2 separate regions of the Homo sapiens genome follow, and region 2 is linked to region 1. Evidence: fine-mapped expression QTL. Tissue or cell type: whole blood. Region 1 holds a variant in brackets; the other region holds the start of a gene. All regions are shown on one strand. Distances are from middle to middle.

The links. PIP is the estimated chance that this variant, and not a neighbour inherited with it, causes the effect.
Region 2: it holds the start of SLC7A1, and the variant in region 1 is fine-mapped to the expression of SLC7A1 in whole blood (INTERVAL, PIP above 0.99).

The regions. Positions count from the first base shown.
Region 1 is chr13:29,616,677-29,627,048 of GRCh38, forward strand. No RefSeq gene overlaps it. Among named protein-coding and RNA genes, the nearest start is that of SLC7A1, 26 kb to the left of the region's middle. The variant A/T (reference allele first, on the strand shown) is at 5,531.
Region 2 is chr13:29,589,329-29,599,584 of GRCh38, forward strand. It overlaps SLC7A1 (solute carrier family 7 member 1), which reads right to left and starts at 6,360. Exons shown (of 13, transcript NM_003045.5): 1 at 6,088-6,360. RefSeq lists enhancers at 1-995, 3,156-3,657, 3,658-4,157, 5,247-5,376 and silencers at 5,024-5,318, 5,487-6,726.

The DNA.
Region 1 (10,372 bases):
AAAGATTAGAGCAGAACTAAATGAAATTAAAACAACAAAGAAAAACAATACAAAAGATAAAGTAAGCAAAAAGCTGGTTCTTTGAAAAGATAAACAAAATTGATAGACCATTAGCAGGATTAACCAAGAAAAGAAGAGGGGAGATCCAAATAAGCTCAATTAGAAATGAAACAGGAGGTATTACAACTGATACCACAGAAATACAAAAGATCATTCAAGGCTGCTATGAACACCTTTACACACACAAACTAGAAAACATAGAGAAGATGGATAAATTCCTGGAAGCATACAACCCTCCTAGATTAAACCAGGAAGAAATAGATACTCTGAACAGACCAACAGCAAGCAGCAAAATTGAAATAGCAATTTAAAAAATTGTCAACAGAAAAGTCTAGGACAAGACAGATTCACAGCTGAATTCTATCAGACATTCATAGAAGAATTGGTAGCAACCCTACTGACACTATTCTACAAGATAAAGAGGGCATCTTCTTTAAATCATTCTATGAAGCCAGTATCACCATAATACCAAAACCAGGAAAGGATATAACAAAAAAAGAAAACTACAGACCAATATCTCTGATGAACGTAGGTGCAAAAATCCCTAACAAAATACTAGCTAACTGTACTCAACAGCATATAAAAAAGATAATCCATAATAATCAAGTGGGTTTCATACCAGGGATGCAGGGGTGGTTTAACATATGCAATTCTGTTTACGTGATACAACACATAAATAGAATTAAAAGAAAATCATATGATCATCTCAACAGACACAGAAAAAGCATTTGACAAAATCCAGCATTGCTATAAGATTAAAACCCTCAGTAAAATCAGCATAGAAGGGAAATACTTTAAGGTAATAAAAGCCATCTATGACAATCCCACAGCCAACATTACACTGAATGGGGAAGAGCTGAACACATTCCCCCTGAGAACTGGAGCAAGACAAGGATGCCCACTTTCACTACTTCTATTCAACATAGTACTGGAAGTCTTAGCCAGAGCAATCAGACAAGAGAAAGAAATAAAGAGCATCCAAATTGGTAAAGAGGAAGTCAAACTCTTGCTGTTTGCCAATGATATGATCATATACCTAGAAAACCCTAAAGATTCATCCCAAAAGCTCCTAGATCTGATAAATTAATTCAGTAAAGTTTCAGGATACAAAAATCAATGTACACAAATCAATAGCACTGCTATATGTCAACAGCGACCAAGCTGAGAATCAAATAAAAAACTCAACATCCTTTACAATAGCTTTGAATAAAATAAAATACTTAGGAATATATCTAACCAAGGTGGTGAAAGACCTCTACAAGGAAAATGACAAAATACTGCTGAAAGAAATCATAGATGACACAAACAAATGGAAACACATCCCCCACTCATGAGAGGGTAGAATCAATATTGTGAAAATGACTATACTGCCAAAAGCAATCTACAAATTCAATGCAATTCCCATCAAAATACCACCATCACTCTTCACAGAACTAGAAAAAACAATCTTAAAATCCATATGCAACCAAAAAATAGCCCGCATACCCAAAGCATGACAAAGCAAAAAGAACAAATCTGGAGGCATCACATTACCTGACTTCAAACTATACTATAAAGCTATAGTCACCAAAACATCATGGTACTGGTATAAAAATAAGCACATAGACCAATGGAACAGAATAGAGAACCCAGAAATAAAGCTAAATACTTACAGCCAACTGATTTTCAACAAAGCAAAAAAAAAAACGTAAAGTGGGGAAAGGACACCCTATTCAACAAACGGTGCTGGGATAATTGGCAAGCCGCATGTGGAAGAATGAAACTGTATCTTCATCTCTCATCTTATAAAAAATCAACTAAAGGTGGATCAAAGACTTTAATGTAAAGCCTGAAGCTATAAAAATCCTAGAAGATAACATAAAAAAACCTTCTAGACATTGGCTTAAGCAAAGACTTCATGGCCAAGAACCCAAAAGCAAATGCAACAAAAACAAAAATAAATAGATGGGACTTAATTAAACTAAAATGCTTCTGCACAGCAAAAGAAATAATCAGCAGAGTAAACAGACAACCCACAGTGGTGAAAATCTTCACAAATATGCATCTGACAAAGGACTAATATCCAGAATCTATGAAGAACTCAAACAAATCAGCAAGAAAAAAACAAACAATTCCAGCAAAAACTGGGCTAAGGACATGAATAGACAATTCTCAAAAGAAGGTATACAAATGGCCAACAAACATATGAAAAAATGCTTGATACCACTGATTGTCTGGGAAATGTAAATCAAAATCACAATGTGATACCACCTTACTTCTGCAAATATGACTATAATCAAAAAATCAAAAAATAATAAATGTTGGCGTGGATGTGGTGAAAATAAATATTTTTACACTGCTGGTGAAAATGTAAACTAGTGCAACCACTATGGGAAACAGTGTGGTGATTCCTTAAAGAACTAAAAGTAAATCTGCCATTTGATCCAGCAATGTTACTTCTGGGTATCTATCCAGAGGAAAAGAAGTTGTTATACGAAAAAGATATTTGCACACATGTTTATGAAAGCACAATTCACAATTGCAAAAATATGAAAGTAGCCCAAATGCCCATCAATCAATGAGTAGATAAAGAAAATATATATATGGAATACTACTCAGCCATAAAAAGAACAAAACAATGGCATTCACAGTCACTTGGATGGAATTTGAGACCATTATTCTAAGTGAAGTAACTCAGGAATGGAAAACCAAACATCGTATATTCTCATTCATAAGAGGGAGCTAAGCTATGAGGACGCAAAGGCATAACAACGATACAGTGAACTTTGGGGACTCAGGGAAAAGGTTGGGAGGGGATGAGGGATAAAAGACAACACATTTGGTACAGTGTGCACTGCACATGTGATAGGTGCACCAAAATCACTAAATTTACTGCTAAAGAATTTATCAGTGTAACCAAACACCACCTGTTCCCCAAAAACCTACTGAAATAAAAAATTAAAATTAAAATTAAAAAAGAATTTTCCCTACAGTTGTTGTTAGCTTTAAGTTGTTATGTCTTTTGCTGTACAGACTTTTCATTTGTATCTAGTTATCTTTCCTTTTGTTATTTCTCTAATTGCTTCCATCCTTAGAAAGTTTTTTCTGACTAGAGATTATTCATTCATTCATATAAAATAAATTTTACAGGTTCTTGTATTTTCAGTTGTTTAATTTATGGCAAATTTACTCCAGTGTATGCAATGAAGTAAGAATATAAATCTCAGTTTTATATTTTACAAACACCATTTGCTGAAGAATCAATTTCTTAATGACTTGTGATGAGTCATTTATCATACATTAAGGTTATATTTTAGGGTTTACTCTATTTAGGCTCTTCCATGGAATTATTGTTAATTATTGTATCATTTTTCTTTGGACAACTTAGTGATGTAGCTTGCTGTCAAGTAGGTAAATTCTTCTGTCTTCCCATTCTTCTTTCTAAAATTCTTATTTTTCATACTGATTTATTCTGAGAATCATTTTACCACATTCTTCCCTGCCATACACAGAACTCTGGAATGTTGAATGGAATTACTTTAAGACTACACACTAACTGAAGAAGAATGTATACCTTTGCTGTAGTCCTTTTTTCCACTGGGAATATAAAATATCTCTCAAATTAATTAGGTCCAGGCAAGGAAATAAAGCTGAGCATCTACTAAAATTAGTAAATCTGTAAGATTTACTCCTATAAGGAGATACCCACTTCTGCATTTAGCTGGGACCCCAAGGGCAACATTTCATGATGGGATGAAAAAGAAATAAAAACTGATATGCAAATGGAAACAATGGAGAAACCTCCTCGTCTTGAACTTGATGCTTGTTGGAGGGGTAATAGCAGTCTTTATTGAGAATTCATCATCTCAGTCTGGACCCCACATAAATTTCGGTACAAGTTCATATTGGTAGTGATCTGAACAATCTCAAGCCAGGATTAAATTTAAAGAAGTCTCATATTGGCAGTGCCTCCTAGTTGCTGGCAAAAGCAAACACAAATCTTATTTAGAAGAATGTACCTTCAAGCAAGGGTACGTGGGAAAAATTCCCATGAATAAATGCCTAAATAAAATGATCAACTCATAATTTTAAATCATCTAAACACAGACTAAAAAGGCACCATCAGTGAAATAATCAGTAACAGACAATAGAAACAGATGTGCAAAACTTCAGATAGAGAAATATCACACCCAGATATAAAATAACTATCTTTAGCAGTGTTAAATAAATAAAACAGATGTTTGAAAAAAATGGAATAGAACTCTAGAAATGAAAAAATATAATAACTGAAACTAAAACTCAATTGATCACACCCATTATGGTGGCTATTACCAAAAAAAAAAAAAAAAAAAAAACCAGAAAATAAGTGTTGGTGAAGAGAAATTAGAATCCTTGTGCATTGTTGGTGGGAATGTAAAATGTTGCAGCTACTATGGAAAATAGTGTGTGGTTTCCCAAAATATGAAACATAGAATTACTATATGGTTCAACAATCCCCTGTCTGGATATATACCCAAAAGAAATGAAAGCAAGGACTCAGTTACAATCATGTGTTATTTAATGACAGGAATATGTTCTCAGAAATGCATTGTTAGGCAGTTTATCATTGTGTGAACATCATAGAGTATACTTACACAAACCTAGATAATAGAGCCTACTATATACCTAGGCTACAAACCTGTACTATATACAGCATGTTTCCTTACTGAATACTGTAGGCAATTGTAACACAATGGTAAGTACCCAGATATCTAAACATATCTAAATATAGAAAAGAGACAGTAAAAACATAATTCAGAAGATAAAAAATGGTATACCTACATAGGGCACTTACCATGAATGGAACTTGGGGACTGGAAGTTCCTCTGAGTGAGTCAGCAAATAAGTGGTGAGGATGTGAAAGCCTAGGACATTACTGTACTCAACTGTAGACTTTAGAAACACTGTACATTTAGACTACACTAAATTTATTTTTAAAATAATGTTGGCCGGGCTCAGTGGCTCACGCCTGTAATCCCAGCACTTCGGGAGGCCAAGGTGGCTGGATCACAAGGTCAGGAGATCGAGACCATCCTGGCCAACATGGGGAAACCCTGTCTCTACTAAAATACAAAAAATTAGCCTGGCGTGGTGGCATGCGCCTGTTGTCCCAGCTACTCAGGAAGCTGAGGCAGGAGAATCGCTTGAACCTGGGAGGCGGAAGTTGCAGTGAGCTGAGATCGCGCCACCGCACTCCAGCCTGGTGACAGAGCAAGGCTTCATCTCAAAAAAAATAGAGTCATTGTGCTACAACATTATTATGCTATGATGTCACTTGGTGATAGGAATTTATCAGCTCCATTATTATCTTATGGAACCACTGTTTTACATATAGTTTGTTGTTGACTAAAATGCTATTATGGGATGTATGACTATATTTGGACATCTATATTCATAGCAATATTATTCATAATAGCCAAGAGGTGGAAGCAACCCAGTTGTCCATCAACAG[A/T]TGAATGGATAAGCAAAATGTGGTTTGTACATACAATAAAACATGATCTAAACTTAAAAAAGAAGGAAATTCTGACACATACTGTAACATGGATGAAGCTTGAAGACATTATGCTAAGTGAAATAAGCCAGTCAAAAAAAGATAAATACAGTATGAGTCCACTTATATGAGGTACCTAGAGCAGTCCAATTTATAGAGACAGAAAATAGAATGGTGATTGCCAAGGGCCAGGGGAAGTGGGGAATGAGGAGTTATTGTTTAATCGAGTATGGAATTTCAGTTTGGAAAGATAAAGAAGTTCTGGAGATGAATGGTGGTAATGGTTGCACAACAATGTGAGTATTTAATGCCACTGTACTGTACACTTAAAATGGTAAATTTTATGTTTTTTATATATATTACCGTGATTTACATGTAAATAAATAAATAAATAAATATTTAAAAAACTAAATTAAGGCTTCTGGTAATGATAGACTAGGTTATTCAGACCTCTCATTCTGCCGACTATAAGGTAGCCAAAATAAAAGGTATCTGCTTGAATACAAGCAAGAGAAAGTGAGACAGTGAAAAGTTGCTAGCCCATGTTTTAGGAGGAAAAGGGGAGGCTAGGAAGAGGAACCTCCTTTTTCTCTTGACTTTGAGGCTGCTTTTTCCTTGGAAGCATTTTTCAATTTTAGATGGAGGCTGCCGAGAGGCTGAGAAGGTCTCTTAACAGTACCAGAGGCAGATGAAATAAGGATTGGGGTCCAGGTGCTGCCAAGATTGAGGGGGAACTTCGGTGAACTTCTCTTGTTTTGAGTCGCAACCTTGTGGGCTGAATCCTAGAAAAAGGGTAAACTACAAGTAGAAAGATCCTTTCAAGGACCACTGTTCATATTTGAATTGTATCAATTCCTGAAACTACACTAAAATGATTCCAGATTGTTATTACTCCCAGGCAGCTGGCAGAAGCAAACATCAAATTATCTACAAAATAGTTTCCAAATACAATCTCCAGCACTCAATGAAACATTTTTAGAATATAAAGAGAAACAATAGCATGATAGAAAATCACCAGAAACAGCAGGCCGGCAAAATCAACAGTCCACCAATATAAAATCATGGTGATATCAAATATTAACTGTAAAATAACCAAATTTACTATATTCAATAAAAGATAGAGATTTTTGACAGAGGATTAGAAACTGAAAAAAAAAAAAGAACCAAATGGCAGTTCTAGAACTGAAAAAGACAATGACTATATTTTATAATTCAATGGGTGAATTTGACAGGAATTTAGACTGAGAGCTAAAGAGAGAATTAGCGAATTGAAAGACAGACGAGAAAAAATGATTCATGTATATGCATATCTAGCATGATGAATATGAAACAGAAAGGACAGAAAATCCAGAAGAAAGAGTGAGAGAAAAAGAGGGTATGGTGAGAGTATTCAGTTGAAGTCCCAGAAGGAAAGAAGACCCATAATGAGGTCAAAATAATACTTGGGCTGCACATAGTGGCTCATGCCTTTAATCCCAACATTTTGAGAGGCCAAATGGGGAGGATTGCTTGAGACCAGGAGTGAGAGACCAGCCAGGGCAACAAAGAAAGACCCTGTCTCTCCAAAAAAAATAAAATAAATAAATAAATAAGAAGAAAGAAAAAAATTAGGTGGGTGTGGTTGTGTGCCTGTAGTCCTAGCTACTTGGGAGGCTGAGGCAGGAGGATTACTTGAGCCCAGGAGTTGGAGGCTGCAGTGAATTCTGATCATACCACTGCACTCCAGCACTCTCACAACAGTGTGAGACTCTGTCCCTAATGATAACAATAATAATAATATTTGAAGAGATAATAGCCAAGAAATTTCCAAAACTAATGAAAGACATCAATCACAGATTGAGAAAAGTCTATACATATTCAAAGCAACATTAACCAAAAGAAAACTATGCTTAGGCAAAGCATGTAAAACTGTTAAAAACCAAAGGAAAACAGGAAAATCTTGGAAATCACCATAGGAAAAAAAATTACTTCAAAAGAGCAATAATTAGACTGGCATCTCACTTTTCAGTGAAATGGAATAAAAAATGACAATGGAATTAAGTTAAATGACTAAAAGTTAATATTTATCATCTTAAAATTTTTTCAATTCTAAGATATTTTGTGAATTCCAAGAAATTCCAGTGAAAATATCCTTCAAGAATGAAGGAGAGGCTGGGCGGGCATGGTGATGCATACCTGTAGTCCTAGCTAGTCTGGATGGTAAGGCAGGAGGATCACTTGAGCCCAGGAGTTCAAGCCTAGCCTGAGCCACATAGGGAGACCTCATCTCTTAAAACAAACAAACAAACAAAAAAGAATGAAAATGAAACAAAAATAATCACGCGGGAGGCGGACCAAGATGGCCAATTAGAAGCTTCAGTCTGCAGCTCTCACCGAGAGGAGTGAAAATGGCAAGTGAATTCTGTACTTTCAACTGAGGCATCCAAGTTCTTTCTTGTTCTAGGCAGACAGCTTGACCCATGGAGAGCAAGGAAAAGCAGGTTGAGGCGACAACCCACCTGAAGCAGCACAAAGCCAGGGAGACCCCACCCCCAGCCAAGGGAAGTAGTGAGTGACTGTGAGGCCCTGCCCAGGAAACCACTTTTTTCCCATGTATCTTTGCAACCTGTGGATCAGGAGATACCTGAGCCACCAGAGACTTAGGTCCGAAGCAAAGAGCTGTGTGGAGTCTTGGGGAAGTGGACACTCACGCATGCACAGAGACCCAGGAGTTTTGTGTACTCTGGCCCTGGGGATTCTGGTGAGGTGGGAGTTCCATTCGTGCATTCCCCTAGGAAGGGGGCTGAATCCAGGGAGCCAAGCAGAGTTGTTCTGATGGCCCCACTCCAATGGCACCTCACAATTTAGGACACACTGGCTTGGAATTCCAGCTGGCCAGTGGCAGTAGGCTGGAGACTGCCTGAGACAGACTGAGTTCCCCAGGGGAGGGGCGGCTGCCATCTCTGTGGTTTGAGTGGGCCATTCTAGCATGCTGGCTCCGGGAAGTCCAGGCGGTCCAGACCAGAACTCTGATCTCTTCCTGTGACAGAGCCCCAGGGGAAGGGCCAGCCACAGGCTCTGTGTTTCAGCTGACTTAGTCTTTCTAGCCTCTGGCTCTAGAGAGTCTAGGCAGTCTGGACAAGGGGGCTCCCCCCACAGTGCAGCGCACCTGCCCTGCCAAGGGGCAGCAAGATTGCTACTTTAAGTGGGTCTCTGATCCCATTCCTCCTGATTGGGTGAGACTTCCCAACAGGGGTCTCTAGACTCCTCCTACAGGAGCGTTCAGGCCAGGATCAAGTTAATGCTCTCCTGAGATGGAGCTCCCAGAGGAAGGAGCGGCCTGCCATCTTTGCTGTTTCACAGCCTTCACTGGTGATACCTCCAGGTGTGGGAGGGATAGAGGTAACTAGGATATGGAGTGAACCCCCAGTAAACCACAGCAGCCCTACAGAAGAGTGGGCTGACCAATTAAAAAAAAAGAGAGAGAGCAACAACAACAACATCAACAAAAAGATCCTGCAAAAACCCCATTCAAAAGTCAGCAATCTCAAAAATCGAAGGTAGGTAAGCCCACAAAGATGAGAAAGAATCAATACAAAAATGCTAAAAACTCAAAAAGCCAGAGTGCCTCTTCTCTTCCAAATGACTGCAACACCTTTCCAGCAAGGGCACAGAACTGGGTTGAGGCTGAGATGGCTGAATTCACAGAAGTAGGCTTCAGAAAGCAATAATGAACTTCACTGAGCTAAAGGAGCATGTTCTAATCCAATGCAAAGAAGCTAAGCATCATGATTAAACTATACAGGAGTTGGTAACAGAATAGCCAATTTAGAGAGGGGCATAACTGATCTGATAGAGCTGAAAAACACAACACAAGAAATTCACAATGCAATCACAAGTATAAATAGCAGAATAGACCATGCAAAAGAAAAAAATCTTAGAGCTAGAAGATTATCTTTCTGAAATCAGACAGACAGACAGACAAGAATAGAGAAAAAATAATGCAATAGAATGAGTAAAACCTCTGAGAAATATGGGATTATGTAAAAAGACTGAACCTACAACTGACTGGTGTTCCTGAAAGGGAAGGGAAAAATGAAACCAAGTAGGAAAACATACTTCAGGATATCATCCGGGAGAACTTCCACAACCTAGCAAGACAGACCAATATTCAAATTCAGGAAATTCAGAGAATCCTAGTAACATCCTCCATGAGAAGATCAACCCCAAGACACATAATCATCAGATTCTGTGAGGTCAAATGAAGGAAAAAATGTTAAGGGCAACCAGAGAGAAAGGCCAGGTCACCTACAAAGGGAAGCCTATCAAACTAACAGCAGACCTCTCAGCAGAAACCCTAGAAGCCAGAAGAGATTGGAGGCCAATATTCAACATTCTTAAAGAAAAGAATTTCCAACCCAGAATTTCATTACCAGCCAAATTAAGCTTCATAAGCAAAGGAGAAATAAGATCCTTTTCAGACAAACAAACACTGAGGAAATTCATCACCACAAGGTCTGCCTTGCAAGAGCTCCTGAAAGAAGCACTAAATATGGAAAGGAAAAACTATATTATCCATTACAAAAATACACTAAAGTACACAGACCAGTGACACTATGAAGCAACCACATAAACAAGTCTGCAAAATAACTGGCTAGCATCATGATGACGGGATCAAATTCACACATAACAATATTAACCTTAAATGTAAATGGGTTAAATGCCCCAATTAAAAGACACAGATTGGCAAGATGGATAAAGACTTAAGCCCCATTGGTATGCTGTCTTCAAGAGACTCACCTCACGTTCAAAGACACACGGAGG
Region 2 (10,256 bases), 27 kb before region 1:
GAGGTGGAGTGTGGGCGTGGCTGGATGGTGATAAATCAAACAAGGCTCCATTGTGGTCTGGGCAGGAGGCATTGCATCCAGCCAAAGGCTGGTGATGTAAATGCCAAACTACTGACCCAGAAAGAATGCAGCCCAGCCTCCGTCACACACACCGGCTCCTGACACTGGCCACGTCCCAGCGCAGCTGCCCCAAGGACCCCAGGGCTCCAGCTGTGCCAGGTGCCTGGACTTGGGAGGGGGAAGACCCACTTTCAGAGACAGCAGAGGGAAATCAGGGCAAAGAGAGGGGAGGCAGGGTGCCCTCCAGCGTTGGGGCGGGTGACCGGTGCCAGCACCACCTGGACTCAGCCAGAAACAGAGGGACGCAGGCAGATGGGCTTCAGATCTGTCTGCCTCCCACTCAGTGTACACAGGGCAGGCCAGGCCAGGCCTATCCCGAGACAGGCTGGAGTCCAGGTACAGGCAGACATCTGGGTTCCAATCTTCACTCTGCCACTGACTGCCTACCTGTGTGCCCGTGGGCCACCTGCCTTCCCCTCTCCCCATCAGTCACACCAGAAGGGCCGATCCCACTGGGTGGTTAGGAAGATTCAAATGAAACATAGATAAAGCGCAGAGTACATGGTGAGCACTAAATAAGTGCTTGCAATGATTGATCTTACCTAGCCCCAGGGCCCCTCCCTTCCTTCCTACTTGGCCTAACAGACTTTGGCTAATGGCACTCAGTAAGCAGACAAGATGCAGAGAAGGACACTTCGAACACGTCCATAACAGATCAACTCCAGCCACTTTGTGGGGAGGATGAGCCCCTGCCTTCTCACTGCTGCCCCCAGGTGGGTGTCGCCCACCACCCCTGTGCTGTATGGAGACATCCTATCCTACAGACCCAAGCACGGGATGAGTGAGGTGGGAAACACGGCCCAGAGTTTCAGCTTTTCAGCTTTGCTTTTTCTAAAACCCAAGGGCTTCGGAGTAATTTGAACAACATGTTTGGGATGACTGTAGCCAGGGCAGTCACTCCCGTCCTGCCCCCCACCAAACACACACACATACATATACACATACACATACACATACACATAAACATACACATACCCACACACAGCAAACACTAAGAAAGGGGCTGAGAGCTCTGTTTCCCAGGAGTCCTAGAAGTCACTGAGCGCAAGGTGCATGGGTCTGAGTCCTAAGCAAACCTGCACCCCATGCTCAGGGAGACATCAGGATTCCAAAGAGAGATGGCTTCAAGTCCATCCAGGCAGTCAGAGCCAAAACAGCCCAGAGACTATTGTTCCTTCCCTCAGACCTGGGACCAGATGGGATGGTGAACCTGTCAGCAGATGCCTCAGAGGCCCGCATCCCTCCTCCAGCACCCTGGGACTATGTCTGCCCCTTCTAATTTAGAAACCCACCCAAGGAAAGAGCACAACATTTTAATGCCTTGGTAAAATGAGAGAGCGAAATTAAGTTGTTGTAAAAATTATTTTTCTCAGGGCTAGGCTAAGTGGCTCACGACCATAAACCTAGCACTTTAGGGAGGCGAGGCAGGTGGATCACTTGAGGCCAGGAGTTTGAGACCAGCCTGGGCAACATAATGAGATCCCTTCTCTACCAAAAAATAAAAAATAAAAATTAGCCGGGTGTGGTGGTACACACCTATGGTTCCAGGTACCTCAGAGGCTGAGGTGGGAGGATCGCTTGATCCCAGGAGGTGGAGGCTAATACAAGCTGTGACTGCACCACTGCACTCCAGCCTGGGTGACAGAGTGTGACCCTATCTCAAAATATATATATATTTTTCTCCCACACCTAAATCAAGGAACTGAGCCTTCTTTCCAGTATAATAGTTAACACTTACATGCAACATTTAGACTTGTGCCAGAGGCTGTGTTAAATCCATAACATGGATTATCTCATTTAAATCCTCTCAGTCCTATAAAGTAGGCACTAGAAGGCAATTATTATGCAAACAATATGAAAAAGAATTTAAATGTGGTTCTGAGGAATATCTCAGAAAAGACACTGACCCCGTAAGTGGAACCCACTCTGGGGCTCTGCTCTTTCTGCCAGTAGGGATCATGATGTCTCCTTTGACCCCACAGCGTAGAAGCCCCATAACCTCATGTTGCAGAGGCCCCATACCGAGCAGAGGCCACTCCCTGAGTCACCACTGCTAGATGGTTTCTACAATGCAGAACTCACTGTGCAGGACACGGCAGTGTGGGATCCACTTTTAAAGAAACAGGAAAGCAGCTGGTTGCCCTCACAGCCAAGAATCCGATCTGAACAAGTATTCTGAAGAAAGCACTGCAGTAGGAATATGGAAAGCTAGGAAACAAAATTGCCATGCCCTCTGTGCCCCCAGAAAAGGGAGGGGGGCAAGGGGACAATCAGAAAAAAATGGAAAGACAATGTAGCCAGACATAGTCCTACCAGAAGAAGGGACATCCTCTCCCACCTCCAAATAAACCCCCAGGTTTCCTCGCGCTTGATTTTTGGTTGCCACGGTCAGAAATTTTTGGTTGCCGTGGTCAGAATTGCAGGCTGCTAACAAAAGGACTGATCTCAAGAGAGAAATGTAAATGCATGGACTTGGTGCCTTGATTCTTTCAAAGAACACTGTGGACTCCATGCTTCCTAACTTCACTACTGTGAGGCTGAGAGGGACAGGCTCTCCCAATATACAGATGGAGCCAGTATGTAAGGTTCACGAAGTCTAAATTACTTCAGAGAGAAGCAAAGCCAGAGAAGCCAGGAGCGGTGCTGTTCCCAGTATTGGTCCCAACTCCCCTCAAAGAAGCATCCTTCGTTTCAGGGCAGATAATCATCCCATTCTGCATTGAAGCTGTGAAGGCCTCTTCCCTCAGTCACACGGCTCTGATTCCAGTTATCCAGTGTGTTCACCAAATGCAATACCTGCCATTCCCCACTGTTCCTGACAATAACTAGAGGAAAAAAGCCCAATGAAAGCCACTGGGTGTGGCAGGAGGGGCAAACCACAGACCAGCCAGAATCTGGTCCAAAGCCCAGAAACATCTTTTCTGAAGCCCAAGTTCCTGGGATGACCAAATCTCGACCAGTGGGCCAGGTAAATGGCATCCCCTGGGTCTGCCAACACTGCACATCTGAACGAATGCCTTGGGAGAAAAAGGAACACGGCTAGCAAGCCACCAAATCATTTTCCCAGTTTGATGCCCATCCTTCTGGTAATTCCATTTGGAAATGTACTAAGCCTGGATTGACAGATCATGACCCACACTGAACCACAGGGGTGGTTATTTTCAAGGCTGCTTTGTAGATGGGTATGGGAGTGGGGGAGGAGGCAGATTATGGCAAAACAGAAAGGGAGGCCACTAAAGTTTATCACAAGGCAGATAATCTGCCACAAATGAAGCTACTACTCTGTTCCCTCACGGGAAGAGAGGTCTAAACCCTGGGGTGGATAGCAGGTTGGCCAGGGATCTGATGCCTCCCCACCCGAGGCCTGGGAAACCTGAGGGTAGGCAGATGTCCTGAAGATCCAGGAATACCCCAGGACCTTTGAACCCCATGTATGGAGGGTCTCCATCCCACAGGACAAGTCCACCACCAGGCGGCCCACTAGAAGGCGGCAGGGGAGCAAAGGGAGGCCATGGGCAGCAAGGAGACAGAGGCTGAAGAGACCCCCCAGATTTGGCGAGAGGAGCCAGTAAAGCTAGGTGAAGGGGAAGGAGGCCAGCAGCCTGGACGGGTGGCTGCAACACACAGGCAGGCACCTGAGAGGGGCCCCAAGAAGATACATCTTCCAGCCCTGACCCTGGGGATAAGAGTTCTAAAAAGGTCAGTTGTGACTTTCAAAAAGTCCCTCTTCCATCCAACACGTTCTTTGCTCAGCCTTCCCATCTCATTAATACAGCAACTCCGATGTGCTTGGAGTCATATTTGACCTTTCTCGTCCTTCCATGAATCCACCGGCCAATCCTATTGGATCTGCCTTTAAAATCTATCCAGGTCTGCAGGGGCCAACTATACAGAAAAACACCACATCCTATCGGAAGGTCTTGCTTGGAGTGAGGACCAAGAGGCAGGTGGAGTGATAGGCATCTCTGAAGATGCCTCTGGAAGAGATAACTCCGAGACTCAAGTATCTCCAAGGTTAGAGGGAAACAATATTTTTCTCCATAACAAGGATGCACTTATTCACATTTCAAATTTGTCCCTAGGATTAATAGCAATCCCTCCAAATACATGGTTGATAATGAGAAAGGATTAATTTAATTGGACATAATTCTGAGCCCTCCAACATAATTATCTATTTGTATGGACTTTGGTTAAAATAAACTACAGACCAGAATAATCAATCAACACGTATTTAATTCCATCAAAGAATGAGTTCTTCTACCAAATAGAAAATTGTAACTCCCTGAAGTCAACAGTCTTGTCTTTCAAGCCTTTCTTTTTTTTTTTCACCTAAAGCAAGTAATCATATGTACAGGAGCACGTGGCTCTAGGATCCAGACCCAGACAAGGGAGTACATTTCTGATCTACTTACTAAGCCCTTTCCTCTTTACTCAAAACTCCTTTGACATCCTTTGAATTTTACCTTTATAATAATTAAACATGATCGTAATATGCTAAACCTATTTTTAAAACCATTTTAATCTATTGTTGACCTTTCCCCTAAGTTTCTATTCTGTTCGTGTGACTTAAATAAGACCTTTTGTTTTAATAACAGGAGGGTGTGTTCATATAAAAATCATGGTAATTTCCACTGAGATCAACTAAAAATACCAGAGGAATAAATGTATCATGGTTTCCTATTATCTGAACCAAACATAAAGGGCAAGAAATGTTAGGAAAAATCCCAGATAAATTATAATTCGAATTAAATACAATTAGGGCATTCGGCCAGAGGCCGACATACACAATTCTACTAGTCGAATGTAAGTAAGATAAAAGGCACATTCTTTAGGGAGATACACCTGGGATTGAAATCTCAACCATCTGGTAACTATGTCTGGACTAAAACCCAACACATGAGGGCATGGCGGTGATGACGTGAGTATTGGGAAATGTAGGTTATTTATTTATTTTTTTCCTGAAGGCACATGTCTGACTATCCTAGTCACACAAGTCAAACACAACTGCTGTCTGGTTCCCCCATCCCCTGGAAAGGGTCAGGAGCTGAACCAGCAGGCTGTTGTAGTACTACAGTGCAGCTGCCGCTCTGTGTACGCGCAGGTTTTAGAATGACTCTGACCTGCCCATGCCTGGGAAGTTTTCTACTACGCAGAAAGGAACACCCTGAGAATACGGTGTCTTGCTAAAGGCGGAAGAACTTCCTCTCATTCCAAACCATGTGGAGGGCTTGAGGAACCCGGCCTTTCCAGGCCACACTGGGTCACAAGGAAGCCCACCTAGGGGAGACTTCCTCAAAGCAATCTTGGGGACCCAGACGAGAGGTGCAGGCGGCGCGTCCCGGGTTCTAGGGACAAGCGGAGAGCCAGGCGCCCTAGGTCAGGGCGGCCACCGGGCGGGGATGGCAGCAGAGTCCCTGGGCCGGCCACCTGCCGCGGGACCACCCTCCGGGCGGCCGGGCAGAGTCCCCACCCACGGCTGATGACACATCCCCGGACCTCGTGGCGGGGCGGGGTGCTCTGCACCGCGCCATGTAAGGGAAGGTCTCCTCGCCGCCGGCGGGCTCCGTGTGCCTCCCAGTCTGGCCCCCGTGCCCGCCGCCCGCCTACGCACCCCGACCACCCCGTGCGTAGCGGCGCGCGGGTCCCCGGACAGGCGCGCGGAGCGGGCATCGCCAGATCGCCCACGCTTACTCACTCGGTGTTGCATCATGCACCACGCCGCGGTTTCAGGGAGCCAAAATGGACTCCGTGGAGGCGACAGTCGCATGGGCACCAGCCCCGCTCGCCCACTCCGGGGCCCGCCCGGCCCTGGTCCTGGCCCTTCCCAGAGGATGGCAGCGTTCCCGGCGCGGGGGCCCTCGCCACTCCCGCGCCGCCCTGCCGCGGCCCCACGCGGCGCCAGGGCCCCCTCCGTGATGACCCGGGCCCAAGGAGCTGCCCCCTGCGTTGGCGGGGCCGGGCACTCACCAAGCCGGCGGCGGCGGGGCTCCGGCAGGATCGCGAACAGACAGACTGTCGGACGCGCTCAAGGACCAACGGACGCTCGGCCGGCGAGACCGGGCGGGGCGGGGCGGGGCGGGGGCGCGGCGCGCGGGGAGAGGAGTGGAGGCTGCGGTTAGCGGGAGCCCGCGGCCGCGTGCGCGCCTGCCAGGTAGTTGACCCGCTGCTCACACCTGCCTGCGCGGACTGAATGGGCGCCGAGGGCTGGCGGGTTCCGGCGCCAGGTTTCATCAGCAGTGCGCCCGGCCCCCGCCCCTCGCGCTCCGCGCCCCGCGCCCCACGCCCGCCCCCGGACCAGGCAGCCCCGGCCCGCTCGGCCGCGTCACCGCCGGGCACCAATGGGAGCGCGGCGCGGCGGCGGCTGCCAGCCCAGAGGCTGCGGCCGGGGACCGACGCGCCCTTGGTGGGCGGGGCGGCTGAGTCTTCGCGCGCCCAGCGCCCCAACCTGGGGTTCCCGCGGCGGGCGGGCGGGCTGCGCCTCCGCTCGCCTTCTCAGTAGCTCCGTAGGCGTGTGGCCGTTTCTCCGCCAATCTGAGCGCACCGCGCCACAGCATCCTGTGGTCCCCTGCAGATCCCACAGCGCCCTGGCCAGAACTAGTGCTGCAGGTCCGGCCGTGCCAACCCCCTCCCGGCGGGCCCCAGGGAGCTCACACGGAACTCGAGACCAGTTTTCCTTCTCCAAAATAAAAGATTTGGTATGCACTTAAAAGGTTTAAACTGTTTTCTTTTCATTTTAGAGACAGGGTGTTACTCTATTGCCCAGGCTGGAGCGCAGTTCACCTTAACCTCGAAATCCTGGCCTCAAGCGATCCTCCCGCCTGGGCCTCCCAAAGCGCCCTAGGATTACAGTCCTGAAACACTGCACCGGCCTAAAAATTATTATAAATCTTCATGTCTTTGTTATTGGATTATTTTATTACTATTCCTTTGCCCTTGCTAATACCTTATCCTTGCCAGTTGTCAGAAGAGCCCCAAAGCTTGAATCTACCTGTGCCCCCTTGGCAGTGGCAAATGCACAAACGGCTAGTCAGAACGGCTCACTTTTGCAGTTACCCCCCAGGAAGTGGCAGAAGCTTCAGTCCTGAATCACACCGTGCTCACCTTTTAAGCTCCCTCCTTGTCTCCTTTTGTACCAAAAGCCAAGCGAGAATCATAATCTTTAAAGATCCAGTGATCTGGGACTTGGGATAGGTAAACAGGGCATAAATTAATAATGCCATCCTTCTTCTATCTTATAGGAAAACAGAAAAACAGTGGACGGTGTCCGTGGTCTTTGAATCCTTTCTACAGGTCCTTCTCAAATATCAGCTGCTGAACTATTCCCTTGGAATTAGACTAGCAATTTATAAAGTACATAACTGCATGGTGCTAGCTTCAGAAAAAGTGTTCTGTTGTTGTTGCTGTTGTCATTTGTTTGTTTTTTAGAGACAGGGGTCTCACTCTGTCACCCAGGCTGGAATGCAGCGGTACAATCATAGCTCACTGGAACTTCAAATTCCCAGGCTCAAGCCATCCTCCTGCCTCAGCCTCCCAAGCAGATGGAACTACAGGCTTGTGTCATCACGCCTAGTTAATATTTTTTCTACATATAGACACGGGTTTTTGATATGTTGCATAGGCTGGCCTCAAATACCAGCTGTCTAGCGATCATTTTGCCTCAACCTCCCCTAGCATCGGGACTACAGGGATGAGCCAGAAAAAGTCCCCAGAAAAAGTTTTAATGAACACATGCAGATGGCTTAGCAGTTGTAAAATGTGTTTTTGTCTTTGTTTTAGAGAGTGGGTCTCACTCTGTCACCAAGTTGGAGTGCAGTGGCAACATCATAGCTCACTGCAGCCTTGAACTCCTAGGCTCAAGCGATCGCCTCACTTTAGCTTCCCCAGTAGCTGGAAATATAGGCGAGCACCATCCTGCCCAGCTTTGTAATGTGCTTTGAACAGTGCTTGACATCATAGTAAGCCACCATATATGCTTTGTTTTAAAGCAACAAATCTGGCCTGTCACGGTGGCTCACGCCTGTAATCCAGCACTTTGGGAGGGCAAGGCAGGCAGATCATGAGGTCAGCAGATTGACACCATCCTGGCCAACATGGTGAAACCCCGTCTCTACTGAAAATACAAAAATGATCTGGGCGTGGTAGCGCACGCCTGTAGTCCCAACTACTCGGGAGGCTGAGGCAGGAGAATCACTTGAACCCAGGAGGCGGCGGTTGCAGTGAGCCAAGATCGCACCACTGCGCCCCAGCCTGGTGACAGAGCGAGACTCCGTCTCAAAAAAATAATAATAAAAATCAATAAAAAATAAATAAAACAATGTATCTTAGTTCAATTGCACAGTGGTGAAATGATGCCTTCCATTCACAGAAGATCTCCCAGATCCCACGCAGCCTACTCTGTCTGCTGAGGCCACAGTAAGCATGTCCCCTTCTCACAGAGAGAAGCCTGGTAGGATTAAAGACCACCTGCTTTGCCCTTGGCACCAGATCAGGATTTGAATCTGAACTCTACCAGTTCATTTGCTGTGAGAGCTTCTGCAAACTATTTCACTCCTGTTTGGAGCTTGTAAATCTTATATTCTTAAGAAAAAAATCTATCCCTTGGTGTTTGAAATATGACTGTGGAATTTTCTCTTTCTGCCTCTCTTTCTTTCTTTTTCTCTTTGCTGACTTCTGGCAGTAAAATAGAATTTCATAAATTGTAGAGATGCTCTCCTTGGGCAACACAGAGCGCCAACATGAGTTAATGTTTGTAAATTCTGAGAGCAAGTGCTCCAGGCCCTGATGGGAGTATGGTGACATTTAACCCAGGAGATTTTTAGCACTGTGCTCCGTTTAGCAATCCCACTCAGCAAGGTCCTGTCTTCAAAAAGACAATAAGACAAGCCCCATGAGCAAGTGACTTCTCAGCAAAAAGGATTCAGTATGAACCAGGGAAAAAATAGTTACGCACAAGATCTCAGCAAAACATTAGAGGATGCTGATAAAGAGGGCTACATGTTTTAAGCAAAGCCAGTTTTTAGGCAGGTCAAGACTCACATTACAGGTTCAGAGAAACCGTGAGTGACAGGCAGCCTTGATTACAATCAAAGAGCAGCTGCCCAAGATTCCAGCAACCATTAAGAAAGGGAGATGCTACAATTTAGGCCCTAGAGAGCAACATCTAAGGTTAAGGTTGACATACTAAGTCTCTTTCTAGCACCATTAGGCACCTTGGGGGCAAGGAAAGTGCACAGAATCAAAGCCAGGCAGATGTGGGTTTCAATTCTAACCAGCTGCTGGCCTGGGGAGAGGGGCCCTGCTCACTCTGTGCCTCAGTTTCCTCATTTTCGAAATAAGAATTTTACTACCTGCTGGATACATACGAACTTCATGGTAAGGATGAAAAATGTGTATAAAGATGAACAGAATATAGAGCTCAGAAATAGACTTAGTTTGTTTTGTATTGCTATAATGGAATACTCGAGTCTGGGTAATTTATAAAGAAAAAATGGTTTATTTGGCTCACAATTCTAATGGCTGGAAAGTTCAAGATTGGACATCTGCATGTGGAGAGGGCTTCAGGCTGCTTCCACTCATGGCAAAAGATGAAAGGGAGTGTGCGTGTGTGCAGAGATCACATGACAAGAGTATAAGCAAGAGGGAGAGGAGAGAAGGGCCCGGTTCCTTTAAATAACCAGCTCCAGAGTCATCTAATAGAGTGAAAATTCATCTCCCCGTCCCACCTACCCCCAGGAAGGACATTTCATGAAGGATCCACACCCGTGAACCAAATACCTCCCATTAGGTTCCACCTTCAACATTGGGGATCAAATTTCAACATGAGGTCTGGAGGGCACAAACATCGAAACCCAAACAGTAGCCTAGACCCACACAAATAGCTGATCCAGAGTGGCTAAGACAAGTCAATGGAGACAAGATAGTCTCCTCAACAAATGGTCCTGGAACAACTGGACCTGGACCGCCACATGCAAAAAATAAATCTAGACACAGACTTTAACATCTTACACAGCAATTAACTCAAAACAGATCATAGGCCTAAATGTAAAACACAAACCTATAAAATGCTTAGAAGATAACATAGGAGGAAATCTACCAATGGCTTTTTAGATACAACAGCAAAAGCATTATCTATGAAA